7 linked regions of the Homo sapiens genome follow. The protein of the gene in region 6 interacts with the protein of the main gene of each other region in a biochemical or structural test. Each region holds a gene or a part of one and is shown on either strand. Other genes may lie near its edges.

Evidence for each region.
Region 1: the proteins of APBB1 (region 6) and DIAPH2 form a complex in vitro, tested with the Homo sapiens proteins (one study listed by BioGRID).
Region 2: the proteins of APBB1 (region 6) and KHDRBS1 form a complex in vitro, tested with the Homo sapiens proteins (one study listed by BioGRID).
Region 3: the proteins of APBB1 (region 6) and SF3B1 form a complex in vitro, tested with the Homo sapiens proteins (one study listed by BioGRID).
Region 4: the proteins of APBB1 (region 6) and WIPF1 form a complex in vitro, tested with the Homo sapiens proteins (one study listed by BioGRID).
Region 5: the proteins of APBB1 (region 6) and SF3A1 form a complex in vitro, tested with the Homo sapiens proteins (one study listed by BioGRID).
Region 7: the proteins of APBB1 (region 6) and WBP11 form a complex in vitro, tested with the Homo sapiens proteins (one study listed by BioGRID).

Annotation. Positions count from the first base shown.
Region 1 is NC_000023.11:97,601,342-97,604,841, forward strand, and holds part of DIAPH2 (protein diaphanous homolog 2), read left to right. Parts: 3' UTR 1-3,500. UniProt on the Homo sapiens protein: Could be involved in oogenesis. Involved in the regulation of endosome dynamics.
Region 2 is NC_000001.11:32,020,368-32,023,867, forward strand, and holds part of KHDRBS1 (KH domain-containing, RNA-binding, signal transduction-associated protein 1), read left to right. Parts: intron 1-3,500. UniProt on the Homo sapiens protein: Recruited and tyrosine phosphorylated by several receptor systems, for example the T-cell, leptin and insulin receptors. Once phosphorylated, functions as an adapter protein in signal transduction cascades by binding to SH2 and SH3 domain-containing proteins.
Region 3 is NC_000002.12:197,428,529-197,432,028, forward strand, and holds part of SF3B1 (splicing factor 3B subunit 1), read right to left. Parts: intron 1-3,500. UniProt on the Homo sapiens protein: Component of the 17S U2 SnRNP complex of the spliceosome, a large ribonucleoprotein complex that removes introns from transcribed pre-mRNAs.
Region 4 is NC_000002.12:174,580,805-174,584,304, reverse strand, and holds part of WIPF1 (WAS/WASL-interacting protein family member 1), read left to right. Parts: intron 1-2,865; coding exon 2,866-2,995; intron 2,996-3,500. UniProt on the Homo sapiens protein: Plays a role in the reorganization of the actin cytoskeleton. Contributes with NCK1 and GRB2 in the recruitment and activation of WASL.
Region 5 is NC_000022.11:30,346,895-30,350,394, reverse strand, and holds part of SF3A1 (splicing factor 3A subunit 1), read left to right. Parts: intron 1-3,500. UniProt on the Homo sapiens protein: Component of the 17S U2 SnRNP complex of the spliceosome, a large ribonucleoprotein complex that removes introns from transcribed pre-mRNAs.
Region 6 is NC_000011.10:6,398,595-6,402,094, reverse strand, and holds part of APBB1 (amyloid beta precursor protein binding family B member 1), read left to right. Parts: coding exon 1-13; intron 14-112; coding exon 113-118; intron 119-406; coding exon 407-521; intron 522-665; coding exon 666-750; intron 751-1,022; coding exon 1,023-1,106; intron 1,107-3,500. UniProt on the Homo sapiens protein: Transcription coregulator that can have both coactivator and corepressor functions. Adapter protein that forms a transcriptionally active complex with the gamma-secretase-derived amyloid precursor protein (APP) intracellular domain.
Region 7 is NC_000012.12:14,796,979-14,800,478, forward strand, and holds part of WBP11 (WW domain-binding protein 11), read right to left. Parts: intron 2,751-3,500; coding exon 2,657-2,750; intron 26-2,656; coding exon 1-25. UniProt on the Homo sapiens protein: Activates pre-mRNA splicing. May inhibit PP1 phosphatase activity.

The sequences.
Region 1 (3,500 bases), on a different chromosome or scaffold from region 6:
AACTTGCCTTATTTTCTAGTTTGTGAACAAGAACGAATGAAGTACTATTATTGATAACTTATATATTTTTATTTAGAGCAATCCCACATGCTTTTCACAAACATTAAAAAAAAAAACCTTTCAGGGTCTTTCATGAAGTTCCAATAGTTGAGTGAGTTAAAAGGTTTGTTTCCCAGATTTGTAATGGTCCTGCTCTAGCCATTTGCAGTTTTGTTTTAGATGATTGGAAAGTATATCACCAAAAAAAGTATATAGTGACATTTTTAGTATGAAACCAAATTACACTAAGGTCTTTTGTTGGCCATATTACTGCCACACATGAGAAGCACCATTTATGCAGATTTTCTTCAGAATATTTTTAAAAGGTACAGAATCCTTAAAATATTAACAACTAATTGCATCCATCATCTCCTTTGGCTGCTGTAACAAATTACCACCAATAATATGATGGCTTAACACAACAGAAACTTATTTGCTTACATTTTTGAAGGGCAGCAAAGCCATGCTCCCTCCAGAGGCTCTAGAGGAGAATCTTTCCTTGCCACGTCCACCTTTTGGTGGCTATTGGCATTTTTTGGCTTATGGCCACATTTCTCTTTCTGCTGTGTCTTCACATCACCCTCCTCTGTATACCTAATCTGCCTCTGCCTCTGTTTAATAAGGATCCTTATGATGACTTTTAGGGACTACCCAGATTACTCCAGGATAATCTCCTCACCTCATGAGTCTTAACTTAATTACATCTGCAAGGCCCCCTTCTCCAAATAAGATAAATTCATGGTTTTGGGGATTAGGATGTGGCTATGTCTTTTAGGAAGCCACTCTTAGCCCACCAGAGTCTGCCCTTTGGCCCAAAATTTATGTCTGTCTCATGTGTAAAAGACATTCATCCCATCCTAACATTACCAAAAGTCTCAACCCATTATATCAATCCTAAGTCCAAAATTTCATTCAAATATCATCGGTTCAAAAGTTCCAAAGCTTATCATTTAGATCATCTAAATCAGGTATGAGTGAAACTCTGGGTATGGTCTTTCCTGAGGCCAAATTCCTCTTCCTCTGAGAACCAGTGAAACAGAAAAGTTAATCTGCTTTCAAATTACAATGGTGGGAACAGGCATAGGATAACAGTTACAGACATTTCTGTCTCAAAAAGGAGAGAATGGAAATTGGAATGGAGTCTCCTGTCCCAATCATTTTCAAAATCTAGCCAGGCAAATTTCTGTTATATTTCAAGGCCTGGCAGTAATCCTCTTTCTCAGGGCTCCACCCTTTGGGCCTGTAGCTCTTCTTTCTTGGACTATGGATTGGGCCTCTGCCTCTGTGCCTATGGGTTGCACTTCTTCCTCTGTTCCCACACTTGGGCCTCTGCCTCTGTACCTGCAGCTCTGCTCTCGGGATGGTGCTTCCTTTATCTTGAAGGGTGGCACATGTTTGCAGCTGAGAAGTTTTATCAACGGGTTTCCTACCTGTAGAATTCTGGCAGTCTCACAATCTTCTTTCATTTTTTTCTGTCTCTGTCCCTTTTAGGCCCAGTTGGAAGTGTTTCTGATGGTAGAACATTCTCAAAAATCTTGTGGGTCTTCTACGTATGTCACATTGATTCACACATTCAGAAAAGAGGGTCCTCACAGATTTTTCCTGAACAACCCCATCTCTATTCTTGGCTTCTGTTGAAACAGTCAAATAAATCCACAAGTTAATGCCTAACCTCTTCAGCACTAGCCAAAGGTTGTCAAGACACACCCTTGGGCTTATCTACAGAGCACACTTTTCTAACAGTGAATCTCCTAATTTTAGCATCTTTTTTTTTTTTTACAATCATTCAGATTGTGAATTCAGGCTCAGAATTTACCCAGTCATCAGATACTGATTCCTTTTGTCCACTTATATAGTTATTTTCTCTTTAAAAAAAAATTTTTTTTAATGTATTAGAGATGAGGTCTCACTCTGTCACCCAGGCTGCAGTGTAGTGGTGCAAACATAGCTCCCTGTAACCTCAAACTCCCAGGCTCAAGGGATCCTCCTGCATCAGCCTTCCAAGTAGCTGGGTCTACAGGTGCATGCCACCATGCCTGGCTAATTTTTTGCATTTTTTTGTAGAGACTTGATCTTGCTATGTTGTCCAGGCTGCTCTCGAACTCCTAGCCTCAAGCAATCCACCCATCTTGGCCTCCTAAAGTGCCGGATTACAGGTGTAAGCCACCATGCCCAGCCTGTTTTGTCAATGTATCTGTTTTCTGTCTTATTTTACTATAAGCACTAAGAAGAAACTAAGCTATATCTCTAACACTAGACTTGAAAATTTCCTCAGCTAAACATCCAAGTTCATCATTTATTCAACTTTTCACACTACTGTAGTAGACAATTTAGATAGATAAACTTTTTGCCACTATATGACAAGGATTCCCTTTCTTCCATTTTCCAATAAAATCTTCATTTCCTTCTAAACCATCACTAGAAATGCCTTTAACATTCATACTACTACCATCTGGTAAAGGCAATCTAGTTTTTTCTATCACAGCCACCAAAATTCTTCTAGTCTCTACCCATTATCCAATTCCAAAGCCTTTTTCACATTTTAAGACATTTGTTACAGAAGTACCCAATCCGTCCCAGTTCCACAATCTGCATTAGATTCCCATGGCTGCTGTAACAAATTACCCTCTAGCCCAGTGGCTTAAAACAATAGAAATTTATTATCTTGTTGTTTTGGAGGCCAAAAGTCCAAAATTGAGGGGTTGGCAGGGCTGAACGTCTTCTGGAGACTCTAAGGGAAACACTCTTCCCGTGTCTTCCAGTTTCTTGTGGCTGCCATCATTCCTTGGTTTGTGACTGCATCTCCCTCTCCTCTGTCTTCACATCACTTCCCCTCTGTATATATAATCTACCTCTGCCTCTCTCTTATAAGGACACTTGTGACGGGACTTAGGGCCCATCCAGATTACCCATGATAATTCCCTTATTCCAAGATTCTTAATTATATCTGAAAGGACCTTTTTTCCAAATAAGGTACTATCACAGGTTCCAGGGAGTAGGATATTGAATATCTTTTTTGGGGAGGGGGCACCATGCAGCTCACTACACTATTCATTGCACACAAATGAATTTTTCACTTTTTAAGATGCATTCTTGGTGCTCAAACCAGATCGAAGTTTGTCTCTAAAAGCTATTGTCTGCACAGGCTGCTGCATGCTCTGTTGTTAAATGGATGGACAGGCTATTCTAAATTTTGGTTGATACTTTTGCTACTATGGGCAATTAACTTGAAAAAAATAATCGATCCCAACTCTGTGCTCTGATGTACCTCTTCTGCCCCTTTTATGACACCTTTGACCAAATGCCTTCTATGGTTCACAGTGCAGGCACAAAACTACCTCTGATACAGAAGGGTTCTTTACAAGCTTATTTTACATACCGTGAATCCCTCACCTAAAGGGAGAGGTGAAAGCAAAGACTGCTTTGAATGGGTATTGAGGGAGATTGTGTCCATACCAAGC
Region 2 (3,500 bases), on a different chromosome or scaffold from region 6:
TTGAGCTGAGATCGTGCCACTGCACTCCAGCTTGGGCAACAGTGAGATCCTGTCTCAAAAAAAAAACGTGCTTACCGTATCGTTCAACAGTTGCATTCTTGGGTATTTATTTCAGGGAAATTAAAACTCAACACAAAACCTGTACATGAATGTTCACAGCAGCTTTATTCATAGTAGCCAAAAACTGGAAACAAACCAAATGCCTCCAATAAACTGGCACACCCATACAGTGGAACAGTACTGTGCAATAAAAAAAAAAAAAAAAAGGAACTGTTAATAAATGCAGCAACTTGCTTGATCACAAGAGAATTAAGCTGAGTGAAGAAAGCCAATCTCAAAAGGTTACATACTATATGATTTCATTAATATAACATTCTTGAAGAAACAGAATAGTGGAGATGAAGACTATATTAGTGGTTGCCAGTGGTGAGAGATGAGGGAAAACGGTGACTGGCTATCAAAGGGTAAGGATCCTCATGATGGAACTGTTCTGTATCTTGACTGAGGTGGTGGTCACATGAGTCTGATTAAATTGCATAGAACTAAGCAAACAAGTACATGTAAAGGTGGTGAAATCCTAATAAAGTCAATTGTTAATTTTTTTTCCATGAAACCTGTACAACAAATTTTCTTATTTTAATGTTAATTTTCTGATTGTGATACAGATATGCAAAATGTTATGGGGAAAACTAAAGTATACAGGATCTCTGTTATTTCTTAGAACTGCATATAAATCTAAAATTGCCTTAAAATTAAAAAAAAAAATTTTCAAAGTTGCAAAGCTCTAAATTGTGCACTAAGGAAAAGATTTGGGAGACCATAGTCAATATGACAGAGTTTTCTACTGTCCTGGAATGTAAAAATTGAGCCCATATGAAAGGGCTTGTAACAGGCCTTTGGGGGATTTTTTTTTAACCAATACCCAGCCTTTCTATACCCATAGCCAATATTGTATATAATATATTATGAGTTTATATTTTTTTCTGGGTTGCTAATCAGTAGCTTCCATCAAATTCTCAGAGGGACCCATGATTCCAAAAAAAATAAAGAACCTATTGGCTTTGTGCTCTTGCTTGAAACAATAAGTAATTTGATAAATAAAACAAATGAAGTTGTTTTGCAATAGTAAGCTTATGGGACTTCTGATTCCAAAAGATGATACCAACAGAAAAGTTGAGAATTATAAATTTGGGGATGATAAAGTCATGTGAGTTGTTTAAGGGAAGTTGAGGGTGTTAACCATACTTTTTTGTATTTGTTTTTTTTTGAAACAGGTTCTCACTATGTCACTCAGGCTGGAGTGCAGTAACGCAATCTTGGCTCACTGCAACCTCTGCTTCCCGGGTTCAAGCGATTCTTGTGCCTCAGCCTCTCAAGTAACTGGGATTACAGGCGCATGACACCACACCTGGCTAATTTTTGACAGGCAGGCGGCACCACGCCTGGCTAAGTTTTGTATTTTTAGTAGAGACAAGGTTTCACTGTGTTGGCCAGGCTGGTCTTGAACTTCTGACCTCAGGTTATCTGCCTGCCTCAGCCTCCCAAAGTGCTGGGATTATAGGCGTGAGGCACCACACCCAGCGGCACATTTCTTTTTTTTTTTTTTTTAAGGAGATGGAGTCTTGCTCTGTCACCCAGGCTGGAGACTGGAGTGCAGTGGCATGATCTCGGCTCACTACAACCTCCACCTCCCGGGTTCAAGCGATTCTCCTCTCTCAGCCTCCTGAGTAGCTGAGACTACAGGAGCGCGCCACCACGCCCAACCAGTTTTTAGATTTAGCTAGAGTAAATCTTTAAATCTTTAGTAGAGACAGGGTTTCACCATAGTAGAAACAGGGTTTCACCATGTTGGCCAGGATAGTCTCGATCTCCTGCCCACCTTGGCCTCCCAAAGTGCTGGGATTACAGGTGTGAGCCACCGCGCCCCAGCCGGTACATTTCTTTTAATTCGGTTAATGATTATAGATGCCTGTTGTGTATCAAGCATTGTACTGTACTAAGAATTACAGACACTCAGCAATGGAAGGAGTCCAGAGATTGTTAACAACAGGCAAAGGAGGAGTGCTGTGTTTAGAAGTGTAGAACCAAGTATAGTGGGAGTCTAGAGGAGGGTATGAAATGAACCCTGACCTTTTAGAGCAGTTCTGAGAATCTTGCTCTCCTAGAAATACTCGCTCTGGATACTTAGAAAATCTTGACCATTGTCTTGTTCCTTATGCAGGCCATATCAAACGTTCAGTTGGCCGGGCGCGGTGGCTCACGCTTGTAATCCCAACACTTTGGGAGGCCGAGGCAGGTGGATCACAAGGTCAGGAGATCGAGACCATCCTAGCTAACACGGTGAAACCCCGTCTCTACTAAAAATACAAAAATTAGCCAGGTGTGGTGGCATGCGCCTATAGTCACCAGCTACTCGGGAGGCTGAGACAGGAGAATTGCTTGAACCCGGGAGGCGGAGGTTGCAGTGAGCCAAAATTGCGCCACTGCACTCCAGTGTGGGTGACAGAGCAAGACCCTGTCTCAAAAAAAAAAAAAGTTCAGTTAATGATATATTTGTATTGATTTTTTAGTTAAGCCAGACCAGTTGATAAAGTTGGTATATAATTTTCCCAGACTTCTCTAATATTAACTTTTTTTGTGTGAGTTACATCTCTTTTTCGCCCTCTCTCTTTTTTTCTTACTATTTTTCTTATTAACATTCTCTTTTAAAGTCATACACCAAGCATGTAGGAGAGCTGGGAATCAAACCCACTTTGTCTAGCTTCAAAACCCTTGTCTTTCCTCCAAGATATATTAAGCAACGTGGAAGCTTATAGTCTGGTTGGGATAAAATCTACAAAAAAAACAAAAGTGGGGGGTGGGAAAGGTTAAGTTATAGTAAAAGATGAAGGAAATTTTGAAAGGTTAACTGAATTTACTTTCTTTGGTATAAGAAGTGACTTGGGTTTAAGTATCTGCTATGTCACTAATTAGTTTTGAGATCTTGGACAAGTTATATAGCTTTTCTGAGCCCGGGTTTCTTCATCTGTCAAATGAAGATAATACTGGTTACAAAGACAAAGTGAAATAATAAATACAAAATTCCTGACGCATAGAAGGCATTGGATAAGATATGATTATTCTGAGTGGCTGGGAAACAAATGGGTCACCTCTTGTGTTGTTTACACCTCAGCTTTGTTTTCTTTGGCCCTTGGGATATCCAAGGTCTCCAGAGACCCAAGCAAAGATTACTTAAAGGAGTCAGTTCCAAAAGGGTTGTCTAGAAAGTACTTTTGCCTGAGGTTAAACCATTTTTAGGAAGCTCCTCCTTGATTTTTTGTCTTCCCATTTCAGTCTACTCTAGCTCTCCGGGGAAAGCAAGGACAAGGAGAGACATACAGAGTTGAAAAAGAAAAAAGAAAGACCAGACCATCAGACAACTGAACATCTGAGACACCCATAAAGCCCTTTTATTACCTTTAGGCCACATGCCAGTGTCTGAGGGTATAAATTGTACTTAA
Region 3 (3,500 bases), on a different chromosome or scaffold from region 6:
TTCTTAAATATAAACTGACTAAAAATATGCAAATAGATCATTTCTGACAACAAATGATCAATGCATAAAACTGCTTGGCAACTGGCTGAGCGCGGTGGCTCACGCCTGTAATCCCAGCACTTTGGGAAGTCAAGACAGTTGAATCACTTGAGATCAGGAGTTCAAAGCCGGCCTGGCCAACATGGTGAAACCCTGTCTTCACTAAAAATACAAAAATTAGCCAGACATGGTGGTGGCACGCCTGTAATCCCAGCTACTTGGAAGGCTGAGGCATGAGAATCGCTTGAACCTGGGAGGTGGAGGTTGCAGTGAGCCGAGATCACAGCACTGCACTCTGGCCTGGGCAACAAGAGAATCGCTTGAGTCTGGGAGGCAGAGGTTGCAGTGAGCCAAGATCACGCCACTGCACTCCAGCCCGGACGACACAGTGAAACTCCATCTCAAAAAAAAAAGGCGGGGGTTGGCAACTATGAAAATAAAAAATGAGAGAACATACCAAAATGAGTAACCAGAGGTCAAAAACAATGAAGACTTGAGGCAAAGAAACGTCTATGCTAATAATCTCTTCCAACTTCAATTATGACCAAAATGAACAAATCCTGTTCCAGCCTAATCCCTTCCCAGTTTGGACTCATAGTTCAATACATTCAGATGTGAAGACAAAGAAAAAAGGGATACTGTCTGCTAGTGACTGAGCAAGAAGAGACTAGGACTTCCTATTGGCCACACAAAACTGCCAAAAGCTGGCACTCTTTAACCCATTTAAACCCTTAAATATTCCAATTTCCACACTGTTGTGCACATCAATAGTTTCTGCCTTTTTATTACTGGGTAGTATTCCATTGTACTACAGTGTGTTTATCCATTCTCTAGCTGAAGTACATCGAGCTGTTTGCAGTGATTACAAGTAAGGCTACTGTAAACATTTGTTTAGAGGTTTTTGTGTCAAGACAGGTTTTAATAACACTAAGGCAGGCCGGCACGGTGGCTCACGCCTGTAATCCCAGCACTTTGGGAGGCCGATGTGGATGGATCACCTGAGGTCAGGAGTTCGAGACCAGTCTGGCCAATGTGGTGAAACCCCATCTCTACTAAAAATACAAAAATTAGCTGGGTGTGATGGCGCGCGTCTGTAGTCCCAGCTACTCGGGAGGCTGAGGCAGAAGTATCGCTTGAACCCGGGAGGCGGAGCTTGCAGTGAGCCGACATTGTGCGACTGCACTCCAGCCTGGACAACAGAGCAAGACTCTGTCTCAAAAAAAAAAAAAAAAATTTCCTTCCCATGACTAGCACAATCTAAACCTGAAGTATGATTTCAGAACTATGCTCATACTTAGAGCCAATAATTTTCTGGGTGCTTCCATTGCTTGTAGGCCCCCTAACATCTTGATTGCAGCAGTAATGGGAAGGAGGGAACCAGTTTAGACAGCCACTTTCCCCAATTCCTCCAGACTGTGCGAAACCACAGGACAAAGGTTCTGCAACAAATGAAGTGCAAGGAAAAAGAAAGAGACAGGAGGAACCTATGAACTGAAAAAGATTTAAGAGATAAATCATTAAATCACAATGTACTGTGAAATGAAAAAGATATAAGAGAAACCAACCAATCAAAATGTTATCAGTTTTCTTGGAAGCCTGACTGAAACTGAAAAACAAAGTTTAAAAGAATGGGTAAAACAGAACAGTGACTAGATATTTTATTATTTTAATTTTAGGTGTAATCATGGTATTATCTTTTTAAGTCCCTACACAGAAATACATACTGAAATATTTATGGATAAAGTGGTATGTCTAAGATCTGCTTCAAAATAATGGGAAGAGTAGAAGTGACCAGTGTACAAATTAAACAAAGCTGGCCTAAGCTTGTAACTGTTGAAGCTAGGTGATGAGTATATGAGGGGTTCATTTTACTACTCACGGTAGTTTTTTTTGTTATTTTGTTTTGAGACAAAGTCTCACTCTGTTGCCCAAACTGAAGTGCAGTGGCACGATCTCGGCTCACTGCAACCTCCACCTCCTGGTTCAAGAGATTCTCCTGCCTGAGGCTCCCAAGCAGGTGGGATTACAGGCACGCACCACCAAACCCAGCTAATTTTTTTATTTTTAGTAGAGATAGGGTTTCACCATGTTGATCAAGCTGGTCTCAAACTCCTGACCTCTGGTGATCCATCCACATCAGCCTCCCAAAGTGCTGGGATTACAGGCGTAAGCCACCGTGCCCAGCCTACCCTAGTGTTATTAAAACCTGTCTTCACACACTGTGCCCGGCCTGTTGTTTTGTTTTTCTGAGACAGAGTCCTGCTCTGTTGCCCAGGCTGGAGTATAGCGCCAGCCGCTCTCTACTTTTCTGTATGTTTGCAGTCTCAAGCAATCCTCCTGTCTTGACTTCCCAAAATGCTGGGATTACATGCGTGAGCAACCCCTGGCCTCCTGTATTTTAAAACTCAGACCTACATATCAAGCTCTTGAGAAAAACAATTCATATCACTGATAGCAGAAGGTCACATCTGATAAAACTATTTAACTGCTCCCCACCAATTCTGTCCCTCTGATTTCCCCTCCTGTGCCTTTTCTTCTTTTTTTTTTTTTTTTTTTTTTTTTTGAGACAGAGTTTCACTCAGTCGCCCAGGCTGGAGTGCAGTGGCGTGGCGTGATCTCAGCTCACTGCAACCTTCGCCTCCTGGGTTCAAGCGATTCTCCTGCAACAGCCTCCCGAGGAGCTGGGATCACAGGCTCACGCCACCATGCCCGGTTAATTTTTTTGTACTTTTAGTAGAGAGGGGGTTTCACCACGTTGGCCAGGCTGGTCTGGAACTCCTAACCTTGGGTGATCTGCCCACCTCAGCCTCCCAAAGTGCTGGGATTATAGGTGTGAGACACCATGCCCAGCCCTTTTCTTCTTTCTAAGCCTTAGATCCTGCTAAACCCAACTTGTAGCACTTCTTCCTCCTTGATTTTTATTTTTCATTTTTCGTCTGAATTATTTTCAGTGTTCTAATCACTGCTCATTACATGTTACACAGATACTGCCCTCAGATGTTAATGTCTCACCTACACCTTTCAGTCTGGTCCCTAAGTGATATCTACTCTCCTTCAGCCAGATATAACCGGTGAACAACTATTTCCAAAATACAAGGCTTCTAAAAGACATCACAGAAAAACAGGAAGTATATTCTGAATCCCAACCCTCAGCTTTTTCATTAAACAAAACTCCAATAGGACAACTAACTATAATATAAATCATTTTACTGAACACTACAAACAATACTGATAAATTGATTCCTAAATGATTAATTCTATTAAAAAAAATTTCAAGGCCAGGCATCGTGGCTCACACCTGTAATCCTAGCACGGTGGGAGGCCAAGGCAGGACTGCTTGAGCCCAGGAGTTCGAGATCAGCCTGGGTAACATAGCGAGACCCCATCTCTAAAAAAAAATTGTAAAAATTAGCCAGGCATGGTAGCACACGCCTGTAGTTGTAGCTACTCAGGAGGCTGAA
Region 4 (3,500 bases), on a different chromosome or scaffold from region 6:
CCAACTGCTTTTTAAGAGTCCCCAAAGTGATGAGGACAAAAGTTGAAAGTAAGCATTTAGAAGCATTTCTAGCAATTTGACAGTAGTTTTCTGTTTCTAAGATTGGATGTTGTGTGTCTTTTTTAAAAAACTAATTCATTTTTCTAATAATTCATTGTTATTTTACAAAAGCGTCAGTTCCTGATGAAAATATTTTTCAAAAGACTGGTCCTTGGCCAGGCGTGCACTTTGGAAGGATAACTTGAGCCCAGGAGTTCGAGACCAGCCTGGGCAACATGGCGAGACCCCCATATCTACAAAAAAAATGTTAAAAATTAGCCAGCCAGACATGGCGGTGCGTGCTTATAGTCCCAGCTACTCTGGAGGCAGAGATGGGAGGATTGTTTGAGCCCAGGAGGTCAAGGCTGCAGTGAGCTGTGATTGCACTACTGCACTCCAGCCTGGGTGATAGAGCAAGACTCTGTCGCAAAAAAACAAAAAACAAAAAAAAAGTTGGTCCTTCACATGGGTAAGTTTGAGAACCTCCAATCTGGCTTACATAGCAGGATTCATTTATCCATGTTTCCCCAAAAGTGTGGGCTATAGTGAACTGACTTAATAAAAAATATTAAATAAATAACACAGGTGGTATGAGAAGATGACAAAAATCATGAATCTTATACCAGAATGCTTGAAGTTTGGGAAACCTTGCTTATCTTATCAACTCATTTCTATCCGTTGTTACCTAATTCAAAGCAAGATTTTGGATAAATAGAATATAGAGATGAAGAAAGGGAAAAGGTGGGTTGGTGGCCATCATAGAACACTGCCCTTGTGAAACAACATAATTAAGGGCCCTGAACATGAGAGAAGTTAGCACCCAGGGAGGTCAGCTGTCAAAATAAATTTTGAGGCAGAACAGGAGGCTACTGAAGGTTGCTGACCCAAAACTGTTAAGAGATCCAGTGTGACACATCACTTAACCTCTCTAGGCCTCAGAGTTTTTTCATCCTTAAAATGAAGACAGCAGGTAATGTTAAGAGCTCTTTTCCAGGACATCCAAAGTATGTTAAGTTGAAAACAAACAAGTTGCAGAACAATAGAGGAGAATCCCATTAGCAAAAGCAAACTGTGTATGCAGAGAGCATTTCTGGAAGGACAGCAGAGAAACTTTTAACAAGCATGCTTCAGCGGTGTGTTGGGGCTGGATGGGGAGGGGCATTTTAGAGCCCACATTTATCCTTCTATCAGCTTGTAGGGAAGGCTCTTGACTGCCAGGGTTTGAATCCCAGCTCCTCCTCAACTAACTAGGTGCCTGGGGCAAATGATTTAAACTCCCTATACCTCAGTTTCCTTGTCTGTAAAATGGAAATAATAACTCACAGGGTTGATAAGGGCTAAATGAAGTAATACACATAAGGTGCTGAAAACAGTGCCTGGCACAGAGTATATGTTAACTATTATTATCATAAGCAAGTAATACTTCATCATTTAGTTATTTCAAGATGCTTCCAACTTTACCACTGCAATTCTGGTTAGCCTACTTCAGGGTTTTTCTGAGTTCTTCCTTTGCCTCTAACTCTGCTAATAAAAGGCTGAGTTAGGCCAGGAGCAGTAGCTCGTGCCTGTAATCCCAACTACTCAGGAGGCTGAGGCAGGAGGATCACTTGAGCCCAAGAGTTCGAGGCTGTATTGCATGATGATCACACCTGTGAATAGCCACAGCACTCCAGCCTAGGCAACATAATGAGACTCTGTCTCTAAAAAAAAATTGTTTTTTAAAGGCTGGGTAAGGTATTGAGCCATACATTTCCCCAGCTTTTCCTCCTGTGGCCCTAACTGGCAAATCTGAAATCATATCCCTGTCAGAAGGGCTGGGGCCAGCCTAGAAAGGACCTGTGGGTTTGGGGCAGCCAGACTCTCCCTGAGACAGACAAGACCTAGCCAGTTTCCAAGTGTGATAGACACAGGCACACAGGCAGGTGCCTACATCTAAGTCCATTTGCTGGTCTCTTAGTGTCCCCAACTCCCTGAAGGAACAAGATCCCAATTTCATAGTAGGTAGGGATCTTTCCTAGGAATTCTGGAAATATAAGAAAATAATCAGACATGTTAAAGCAGCATTTTTGTCCATTCCACAATTTCCATGAGCTAAGCTTTCATCAGAATTAAACATCAGAAACACCTCATGCCAACAGGACATGAGGGAACTTTTGAAGTAATGAAAATATTCTATATCTTGATTGTGACGGTGGTTTCACAACTGTATATGTTTGTCAAAACTCATAGAGCTGTAACTAAAAAGGGTGATTTCACTATGTGTAAATTACACCTTAATAAATCTGACTTAAAAAGAGAAAAAAAGCATCTTTGGCAATATACACAGAGGGAATTATTTTCTAGAACTTTAGTGGGTTTAAAAAACATACAGCTGACTCTTTTTGCTAGAGACAGTTTTTCCCTTGCACTGGGGTAGTTCTAAAAGATGGGAAAAGGAAGTTATTCTTCAGGGTACCCTCTAGTGAATGACGTCTGGTAATGTCCTGCAGAATCCTCCCAGACTTAAAATTCTTTTCTCGTGTCTAGTCATCTCACCCTAACCTGGCCCTGTTAGTTTCAGTCAGATTGTGGTCTGAATTTTCAGAGACTTTAATCAAGGACTGACTCTTCCTCCCTTAAAAATGAACATAATTTATTGCTGCATCTGCTTCCAAACGTCTGGATCTTAAAAAGAAAGATATGGGGTCTAAAACTTGTCGAGAATTTACAACCTATCACCAAGAACCTTAACAACAAGCTTCCCGTACCCAACCTTTCCCAGCCGAGTGTTACAATGCATGATTTTAACCCAAGAGATGACTACTTGTTTGTATGGCTCCCTTTCAGGCCAATACAGAGAAGCCTACCTTGAATAAGACAGAGCAGGCTGGGAGAAATGCTCTCCTTTCTGATATCAGCAAAGGGAAGAAACTAAAGAAGACGGTCACCAATGACAGAAGTGCACCAATACTGGACAGTAAGTAAAAAAAGGCTATCTACCATGGAGAGGAACAGTTTATGGCCTAATAATCAACCCTACCCTCACCACTCAATTTTTATTTTATTTTATTTTTTGGTTAACAACAGCTGCAAAGCTAGCAAAATAAGGGACTGTATCACTCCCTGTAGGCCGCAGCTTTGGCTTGGGTTCCCCTCTAATGCTGCAAGAAGCCAGTATAATAATTCTTTGTCCAAGACATACACAGCAGCAATTCTCTGCATTATTCACAACACTTTCTGGAGATTAACCCATTGCTCCTGGCACCACAGATGAGGAGGCAGCATAAAATATGGAAAGAGCCCTAGCCTTGGAATCAAAAGCTGTGGGTTCAAGACCTGGCACATCCATCCTGTACCATCTCCAAGCCTTGTTTTCTTCATTTTAAAATGGAGATGATAATACATGTTCTATTGACCTCACAAGTTTGTCATGAGCTTCAAATGAGATAATGCCTGTAAAATGTTTTGTTGTCTGGAAAGTG
Region 5 (3,500 bases), on a different chromosome or scaffold from region 6:
TCCTCCCACCTCAGCTTCCTGAGTAGCTAGGACTACAGGTGCCTGCCACCACACCCAGCTAATTTTTTTTTTATTTTTTTTATTTTTTTTAGTTTTTTTGTATAGATGGGGTCTTTCTGTGTTGCTCAGGTTGGTCTTGAACTCCTGGCCTCAAGTGATCCTCATGTCTCAGCCACCACAAGGTGGCTGGGATTACAGGCAGTGACCACCGCACCTGGCCTGTTCCCAACATTTCATTTTGGCAAATTAAGCTGTGGGGAAATCTCTGAGCATTTTCTTTCCCTTTTAGATCGTTTCCTTAGAAGAAAATTCTGTGTGGCTCATTATTGGCTAAAAGAGCATCCTTAAAAGATTTCTTAAACATTTTGCCAAGTAGCTTTCCAATAATTTTGTGCCATCCTCTGCTGCTAAAGAAATAAGAGGATATCCAAGGTCCCTTTAAATATATATGACCAGGTTAGGTGGCTCACGCCTGTAATCCCAGCACTTTGGGAGGCCAGGGTGGGAGGATCGCTTGAACCCAGGACTTGGACACCAGTGTAGGCAATATAGTGAGACCCCTGTCTCTACAAAAAATAAAAAAATTAGCTGGGCATGGTGGCGCATATCTGTATTTCTAGCCACTTGGGAGGATCACTTGAGCCTGAGAGGTCAAGGGTATGATCATGCCAGCGTACTCCAGCCTGGGGCGATAGAGCAAGACCCTATCTCAAAAAAAAAAAAAAAAAGAAAGAAAAAAATCCAAAACCATGCACATCCCTAGATTGATTTTTAGCTATGGTGATTGCTTTTGTAGGCATTTCTAAAATCTGTGAGCCAGTGTGGTGGCTTACACCTGTAATCCCAGCACTTTGGGAAACTGAGGTGGGCAGATCACCTGAGGTCAGGAGTTCAAGACCAGCCTGGCCAGCATAGTGAAACCTCGTCTCTACTAAAAATACAAAAAATTAGCCAGGTGTGGTGGCGGGCGCCTGTAGTCCCAGCTACTTGGGAGGCTGAGGCAGAAGAATCGTTTGAACCCGGGAGGCAGAGGTTGCAGTGAGCCAAGATTGTGCCACTGCACTCCCACCTGGGTGACGGAGCGAGACTCCGCCTCAAAAGTAAATAAATAAATAAAATCTGTGAACTTATCGTTTACATTGCAACAAAGAGACCAATATCCGAGTTAAAGCAGGCATGCAGAACTCTGTGCTTCACTTCTCCTGGGTTCACGTATATTTATGGAGCATGCAGTAGAAATGCACAACTGAGCGGTTTTCCAAAAGTTTTTTCGCTAGGTTAGGCCTTTTCATTTCCTGCATGTTCCTGTCAAGAAACTGAAGTGGAAATTACCCTTAAAAAGTCCCACCAGCTGGGTTGAGTCAGAATCATGTCTTTTTCTGTTGAAATCTATTCCTTCTGGTGGAGAGTATGATTCTAAAATTAACGTTAAGCTAATTTAAAGCAACTGAATAGCTTGGAATGAACATGCCAAGCCTTCTCATTGTTTTATTTTTCAGATTGTTCCCAGATGGGGTAAAGTTATGGCTTAGGCAGTGGTACAGGAGACAACCAGGGCCCCTTTTTCCAGGAGCCCTTTGTCTGCCCGAGGCATTTGCTGGGTATAGTGGCCTAGTTTAGCAGGATTTAAGTGTGCATTCACCTTCATTCTTATGTGTGGTTTGCATTATTTAAGGAGTAGGGAGAATTTTTTTTCCAAAGCATGAGGTTCCAGTTAGACTAATATACTGTCAAATTGAGACCTCATGGTGTTAGTTACACGGCAGGGTATGACCACGACTTGCTGAGGAGCCAGCCTGGGTGTCGATCACTAGTGTGGCACATAATTGCTGTGGTGGTTGATCTGGGGCACAGCACTGCCTGTACCCTGTCTCCTGCCATCTGTCTTAAAAAAAATTTAAAAAATTTTTGTTTTCAGAGGTGAAATTTCATTTTGTTGCCCAGGCTTGGGTATGATCTTCTGGGCTCAAGTGATCCTCTCGCCTCAGCCTCCTGAGTAGCTGGGACTACAAGTGTGCGCCACTGTGCCGGGCTCCCACCCCCTCTTAAACTCACAGGCCAGGGATATGAAAGTCTGAAGAGTGGAGCTGGCTAGCTGGCACCAGATGCCGGGGCCATGCCTTGGTGTGTTTGGGGCAGTTCTAAGTACAAGGTTCTCGCCAGAGGAGCAATGGAAGGCCCCACAGACAATGTTTATGGAACAACCCCTCCTAGCCCCTTGCATTTGCAGGCCACTGTACGATTTGAAAAGACTTTGAGGGCTGGGTTCAGTGGCTCACGCCTATAATCCTATCACTTTGGGAGGCCAAGGCGCTTAAGCGCAGGAGTTTGAGACCAGCCTGAGCAACATGGTGAAACCCCGTCTCTACAAAATGTAAAAAAAAAATTAGCCGAGCATGGTGGTATATGCCTGTAGTCCCAGCTACTCAGGAGGCTGAGGTGGGAGGATCCCTTGAGCCCAGGAGGTGGAGGTTGCAGTGAGCTGAGATTGTACCACTGCACTCCAGCCTGGGTGACAGAGTGAGACCCTGTCTATAAAACAAAAACACTTTGGCATCTCCTCAATAATGTTTCAAGGTAGAAAGGGAAACTGGTGTTAGCTGCATTTTACACATGGGGAAATGGAAGCAAAGAGTAGTTTGGTAACTTGCTGTGGGTCAGAGTGAGTCAGCAGTGAACCTGAGACTTGAACGTGTTCATATCTTGTGTCTTTAAGGTCCGTGTACTTTCTGACTGACACAGGTGTTGTATATAAGTGTGGCACTTTGAATATTACTGTTGGGACATTTTAAAAATCAGGGTTCCCTAAACATCATTATAGGGACATTTTTTCATTATCCTGAGGTTTTGAAGGCTTGCTGGGGACATGGGGCATATCTGGGGAACCATCCCAGGTACAGACAGTGGTTGGAGACCTCCCTGCTGATCTTACCACACCCCTGTCATCTGAAGGTGCCTTATACAGCTGTACGAGTCTGGGTTTTTGCTGAGGATGTTTCCTGTGTGGGCCTCACCAGTATAATGGGGGTGGTTTTAGGGAGTACTTGGACAAGGCGTTAAACCAACTATTTGTTTTTTGTTTGTTTGTTTGTTTCTTAAAGACAGGGTCTTGCTCTGTTTTCCAGGCTGGAATACGGTGACACGATTCTAGCCCACTGCAGCCTCAGACTCCTGGGCACAAGTGATCCTCCCACCTCAGCCTCCTGAGTAGCTGGGACTAGAGGCACACACCACCATGCCCAGTTAATTTATTTTTATATTTTTTTGTAGAGTTAGGGTCTTTTCTTGTTGCCCAGGCTCAAATCAACTAAATTTTCATGTCTTTCAGTCTTTCTTGTTACTCAGAGGACAAAGTCTAGGTTTGGTGCTCATGTACCTTTTACACCTCTCCAGCACTTGCTACCCCTTTGAACTAAGAGAATTAGTCTCAGCAAACTTCCAGCTAAACTTTGACAGTATTACTTTGTTTTCATTATGTTCACTTTTGACTACCTTTTGTT
Region 6 (3,500 bases):
GGGACAGTGGAAGGTGGGAATAGGGCTTGGGATTCGAGGGTGGGAGTTCATCCAGCATCAGAGTCCTCCTCTCTAACTCTGTTATTTGCCTCTCTTGTGCTGCTGGACCCAGAGAGAGGTACTATGCCTATTTTCCCCCTCCTACACCTGGACCAGATGCCTGGAAGCACCCAAGCTCCCCTCTTCTGCCCTGCCCCTTCCCACCCGCTATGCTCCACCATTACCCTCCACCTCAGCATGCTTGCCTGTCTACCCCTCCCCCCCAAGAAGGCAGCACCTATGGGGGACCAGCTGTGGGCAGAAGCCCTGGAGGAGCTGTGATGGGCAGGGAGGACGTGGGTGGGGTGGGGACCAGGCTCAGCACTGGATGGTACTGGGAGACACTGAGGTGCCCCTTCCCCAACAGGGACTTTGCCTACGTAGCTCGTGATAAGCTGACCCAGATGCTCAAGTGCCACGTGTTTCGCTGTGAGGCACCTGCCAAGAACATCGCCACCAGCCTGCATGAGATCTGCTCTAAGGCACGGCCCCCTCCACTCCCTGGACTAGTTGCCACCTTTGCTCTACAAGGGTGTGGGTGGGGTCACTGAGTGCTGTAGGGGGGCCCCAGGGCAATGAGGCTCTAATAGATTCTCCCTGGCTCCTCGCCTCCCTTCCTTCCTCAGATCATGGCCGAACGGCGTAATGCCCGCTGCTTGGTAAATGGACTCTCCCTGGACCACTCTAAACTTGTGGATGTCCCTTTCCAAGGTCAGTGTCAAAACCCCTCCAGGTCCAGCTCAGCTTTGTTGGCAAAGGTGGGTGACCCAAGGAAAGGCATGAGCTCCTGGACAGCGCTGATAGAAAAATGAACACATGAAGACTGAATACTCCAATACGTGGAGGGACTCCGGTTAAAGGGAGGCAGGGGACGAGATGAAAGTAGGGCCTCGGCTGGGCAAGTGTCCAGCTTATGCCCTGCTGGTGGGGCTGCGGGTGAGCAAGGTCTGCCACCATGATCAACCTTCTCTTCTTTCCCATAGTGGAATTCCCAGCGCCTAAGAATGAGTTGGTCCAGAAGTTCCAAGTCTATTACCTGGGGAATGTACCTGTTGCTAAACCTGTTGGTATGTGTGTCCTTCTATACCCAGGGGCTGCTACCTTGATCCTAAAACTCTGCCCCTACCCTCTGCCTTCCAATACTTCTTCTACCAGACCTTCCTCATGCTTGGTGTCTCCCTACCCTTTAAAATGCATCCCACCTCCCCATACTTCTGTCCTAGCTCTATTTCCTGTCCTGCCTATAGCAGCAGTCAGCACGCCTTCGCTGAGCATCAGCCACGTGAGTGGTGCTGAACCAGGCACAAAGGGAGACCCCACTCCTTCATCCCATGGAAAAGCTTTGGTGGGATTGGGAGGCTGATGTTAGATGACTGGAGGACACCAGACAGCAGCCTGTAGCTGGGTTTAGTGTTACAGCACCAGCTGTGGGCTGGGAGCATCTGGAGAAGGAAACAGTGAGCATAATTGTCACATACTTCATTGTTGCAAAGAATTTTTTTTTTTTTTTTTTTAAAGACAAGTCTCGCTCTGTCCGCCAGGCTGGAGTGCGGTGGCGTGATCTTAGCTCACTGCAACCTCCGCCTCCTGGGTTCAAGCAATTCTCCTGCCTTAGCCTCCTGAATAGCTGGGATTACAGGCTCCCGCCACCACGCCTGGTTAATTTTTGTATGTTTAGTGGAGACGGGGTTTCACTGTGTTGGCCAGGGCTGGTCTTGAACTCCTGACCTCAAGTGATCCACCTGCCTCGGCCTCTGAGAGTGCCGGGATTACAGGCGTGAGCCACTGTGCCTGGCCTGATCTGGTTAACTCTTATATTTCAGTGCTTTCCTAGTGTCTGCTATTTATTTGTTTATTCACTTAACAAATACCTTTGAAGCTTACCATGTGGCAGGCCCTGGACTAGGCACAGGGAGAACAGTGGCCACAGTCCCATTTTCCTAGAGGTTATAGAAGGTTATGGTAGAAAAAAACCAGGAATTAATAAAATAATCACACAAATAAATGTGTGAGTTATTCGTTGAGAGAAAGTAGCAAGATATAACAAAGGAATTTCATCTAGTCTGAGGTTGTAAAAGACTTCCCTGTGAAAGTGACATTTGAACTGAAATCCAAAAAATAAGTAGAAGTGAATGCGGTCAAGTGGAATGGAGGTGGGGGTGGGATGGGGGAAGATCAGGGTCTACAGTGGGAGGCACTTTGGCATTTCCAAGGTACTGAAAGAAGGCCAATGCAAGATGAGGCCGACAGCTGGGCAGTGGTCAGGCTGCCAGGTCAGGGACCTCAGGGGCTATGTTAATGATTTTTTCTTCATCCTAAGGGCAGCAAGGAGTTATTGAAGTCTCCGAGAGTGCACTTGCCTTAATCAGATTTGAATTTTGAAAGCTCACTTTGGCTATTTCATGGAGGGGACTGTTAAGTGGGTGGAGGTGGATGTGAGCAGCTCAGTTAGGAGGCTCTTGCTGTAGTCCTGGCCAGTAATGAGAGTATCTTGGGCAACAATGGAGCTGAAGAAGAGTGCGTGGATTCAAGAGCTGTTTAGACGGGTATAGTCAACAGGCCTCAGTGATTGGTTCGATGTGGGTGAGGGACAAGGATGACTCCTAAGTTCCTGGCTGTTGGACCTTCTGGATAGTGGATTATTTCTTTCAAGGTGGCAGATGCTTGAAGAGGCCAATTTGAGCGTAGAGATTGTGAGCTCACTTTTGGACATGCTGAGTTTGAGATGCCTTTGGGGAATCTGAGAGGCAAAGTCAGGTTGGCAGTTAGATTCACAGATCTGGAGCTGAGAGGAGAGGTCTGGGCTGGAGATAGGAGTTTTGGCATTATTGGGTTGTAGAGGTAATCAAAGCCATGGATGTAGAGTAGCTTGGCCCTGGAAAGTGGGCATCCTGAAGTGAGAAGGGAAATGAAGCTAGTCATAGCCTTGAGGCCCTCCAACATTCAATGGATGTGTAGAGGATGAAACTGCCAAGGATAGTGACAACTGGAGAGAGGCAGGAAGAAGAAAAGAGGCTACTTGAAAAAGAAGTGGTAGGGTATCATGTCAAAAGACACACAGGAAGAACTCAACAAATGTTTGATGAATGAAATAAAAAATGAATTAATGAATAAATGAGACTTGCTTCAGATTACATGGCCAGGAAAGCTAGACCTGGGAGTCAAACCCCGGTCATCTTTAATTCTCTGCACTTTCCCTTATACCGTGCTGACTTTCACGTCCAAAATCTTACATTGAAAGAGGGGACCCTTCTTAGAAAAGGTGGGGATTGAACTGAGGTTTTGAAAGAAGGTTTGGATTTGCAGAGTGGAGTGGGTATTTCATTTGGATTCGATGGCACTGCCAAAGACTTGGAGCTGGAGGTGAGAAAAGCATGCTGACCCTTACGCCTTTGCTTTCCTCCTTCTCGTCCTCAACTTCTAAACCCTTGTTGGCTCTTCCATTTGTTACCCCCATTCCC
Region 7 (3,500 bases), on a different chromosome or scaffold from region 6:
TGTGGCTGTTGCACTGGGTTAAACTCTAAGAGAAAAAGTAGATTATGGAATTAAATATAAGAGGCCACTTCAATTAGGTATCAATAGGTTACATGATAAAAACCTCCATATATGCTAAAAAATTTTTAAGAGATCTAGACACCAGACATACTCTTTTCAATTTTATTCGAAGAACTACAATATTTATTAAAATCCCCACCCTTTTTAGATGGCCACTAATTTTACCTTTCTCAGAAATGCCACCTAATTGACTTTCATCTTCATTGTAATAAAAATCAATTTTCACTGCTCTGTGCTGAAAACCTCGTGAAGATTCTGTCAGATTTGTGTTTACCTACTACGTTAGTCCTGTCAAATTTTGAGATCTTAAGCATTTTACTTGAATTCTCTGATTTTTTGCTTCCTCATCTAAAAAATGGAGACGTTAATCACTTTGTAATAAAGCTATGATGATACAATGGGATTACAAATAAAATATCCAGTGGTGTTTGACTCACCACTTAACTATAATCTTTATAACAGATCCGTATTCCTGGCCTAGCTACTATACAATCCTTTCTCTCCCTAACTAATCATGTGTCAATATGGGGCTTAACTGCAGGTCCTCTATCCCAAGAATAAGACCTCCAGGCCTGCCTGGTCAATCATATCCCCCCATCTTCCTTTTCAGTGAATGACTCAGAGATCAATTAGCACATGATCCAAACTGGGACCAGAACATTCCCTGAGATTTTAAATGTAGATGTGAGAGAGATAAGCTCTCAGATTTTCTTTCTGAATGTGTTATGTAGAGAGAAAACAAACCTAGAGCTGCCTGTGGCCTTGTCTCTCAATCATCACTAATTACACACATATATTCCACCTTCTATCCCAAGGAGTTCATTAGTAGTAAGCTGAATGAGGCTAACAGACATCAGACTAGACAGATGGACAGTACTGATGATGAGACTGGATTTTGAGGCTAGTTTCTCTCAGGGATTTCTCATCTTTTTTTTATGTTAAGACTTCTTAATTAAGACAGCCAATGCATGCTTTTTTCTGCCTTAACTAGTCTGTATTGAGTTTTATAAATTGTAACTAGACCCCTGATGAATAGTATTCTCTTCACCCCTTTCCTTTTTCTTAAAAGAATAACAAATTTATCTTCTTCCTTAAATCCTATTAACTATTATTAATCTTGGCAATTTATTCAAATCCAGAGGGCGTATTCTTACACCATACTAATCCTAGTGTGATTAGTAAAAGCGCTGAATGCCTGAGTTTTAATCTCAGCTTTGCCACTACATAGCAGTGTGACCTTGAGGAAAGCTATGTAATCTCTCCATGCCTGAGTTTTCTTACCTGTATAATAGGGACAGTGCACCTACCCTAAAAAATTGTGACGATTAGAAAACTGGTGGAAAAAAACTGGTGCGTAGGTGTATAGCAAGACAACTACTCAAGAAACCTCAGTTATTCCTATTATCTCCTTTTAAAACAACACATAACATTTGGGGTCATTTAAAGAAGGATTCCCTGATTCCCCAAGGAAAGTAATTATCCCTGCTGATATTTAGACCAGAGGCAGGAAGTGGAATCAGTTACAACTGAACTGGGAAATATCTGGGATCCTGAAGCCTGACCCAGAACTCTTAGCCAGGCTAGCTGCACAGATTCTCCCACATTATTTCAGAAACCTTGTAATAGCCTAATGCCATGACTGAATTTTTTTTTTGTACCCCATTTAATGTATCATTGAGGAGTTTCATTCCATCTCTTTTACTTACTACTCTGTTTTTGGGCAAAACATGGAACTTGTAACGATCACTTTAAAATGCTATTTTACAAAAGTGGCAAAGGGTAGAAGACAAAGTGGCAGAAACTTGACAGGTGAAAAGCACATGGAAGTTAACTAGACTATTTTATTTTCTTGCATGTTTGAAAATTTCTATTAAAAAAACAAAATATTCTACATGTTCTAATATTAAACAGAATGGATATTTGTGGGTTAGGATAAAATTTCCAGTGGCAACATCAATGATTTTCAAACTTAGATGCAAAAAAAGATAACATGCAGCTATTTCATGTGATTCCAGTTATAACAAAGCAGCGATACTTAAAATGCATATGAAGAGTGAATAAAACTATTCTATAAAATGTGAAAAAGGCAGAGAATCCTGGTATAGTATTTTATTATTTGGTTTTTAGGTATTTGATGATTTTTTTCTATATCCTTACTAAATGGATAAGTATCTTTTTGGATCTTCTGATTGGAAAAATTGGAAATTGCCTTATATTCACAGGGGCCTAATACTTAGATTTACATGGTAGTTGCCAACATTAAATAAAAGACGACAAACAAAAAACCCAAGGTTATTTCATAAATCAGATTAAGTCTTCTCCCAAAAAGCAAGCTGGCCAAACTGTGCTTCTGTTATCTCACAATAACAATTAACTGAAAGCCAAATAATCGCTTCCCTCTTATTCTGGTATCTGGGGTCTCCAGTTTGCAACAGCCCTCTAGCACTCCATTTTGTCTCCCTGAAACTAACATTAAATCCAAGCATCAAATGCCATCATGCTGTTCTGTTTTACTTACGCCTATGCTGCTTCACTCGTTACCTGCCTGCCTCTGTACGTGTCAGACTGTTATAGCTGCCTGTTTGTAAATTCTTACCCATTTCATCCAATTTCTCCATGTCTCGGATTATCTGTTTTGGATCCTTCATCTTTAAAACTGCAGCTCGAACCATCATGCGCTGTTTTTTGTTCTTAGAAAAATAAAAGGGCAGATGTCAAGAAGTCAGGCACTCAGGAGTTTTACTTCAACTTGCTTTAAGAATCTAAACAGAATAACTCCTTGGCTTCTGATCACTTGTTTCAACCACCAGAAACAGCTATGTAATTTTTTGCCTTAAAAATGTTTACACTTGTCAAAAAGATAAAGAAATGCTATTTTTAAGATGTGCTTTCTTAGTAAAGTATTTCTTTGAACTCTGAGATCTTTAGCAGTTACTTAAACACACATACACTTTAAATTTCTTTTTTTTAACCCCTTATGTTCTTGAAGACCTTGGGTGATTGTTCCTGCCCCCTGTTGTAAAACCTCTGCTAGTTGAAGTCCAAAGCAAAGGTTGAAGCTAAATTCTAAAATTATATAAAGAATATTTAAAAATTTTGCAGGAGTTAATGCTAAACATGAAAACACAATCGAACATTATTTAAAATCTGTGTTGCTTCAATGTATTATACTATAATACTATAAAGCACAATACTATAAGGCAAATCCTTTCTAATTCTTTTGAAGTACTTTGCCACAAATTCAACAGCTAAGAGGAGAATGCTAATTGGGAAAATGGATATATAAATCTAATATATCTATAAATATTATAAACCTACATATATATATTTAAGCTAATGTAATATATGTAATAGACAGCTAATCAGGAAAATGGATAAAGCTATCTAGCATCATGTTTATTTCCATCCTCATCAGTAGACTTTAAAACAGTTATGTTTTA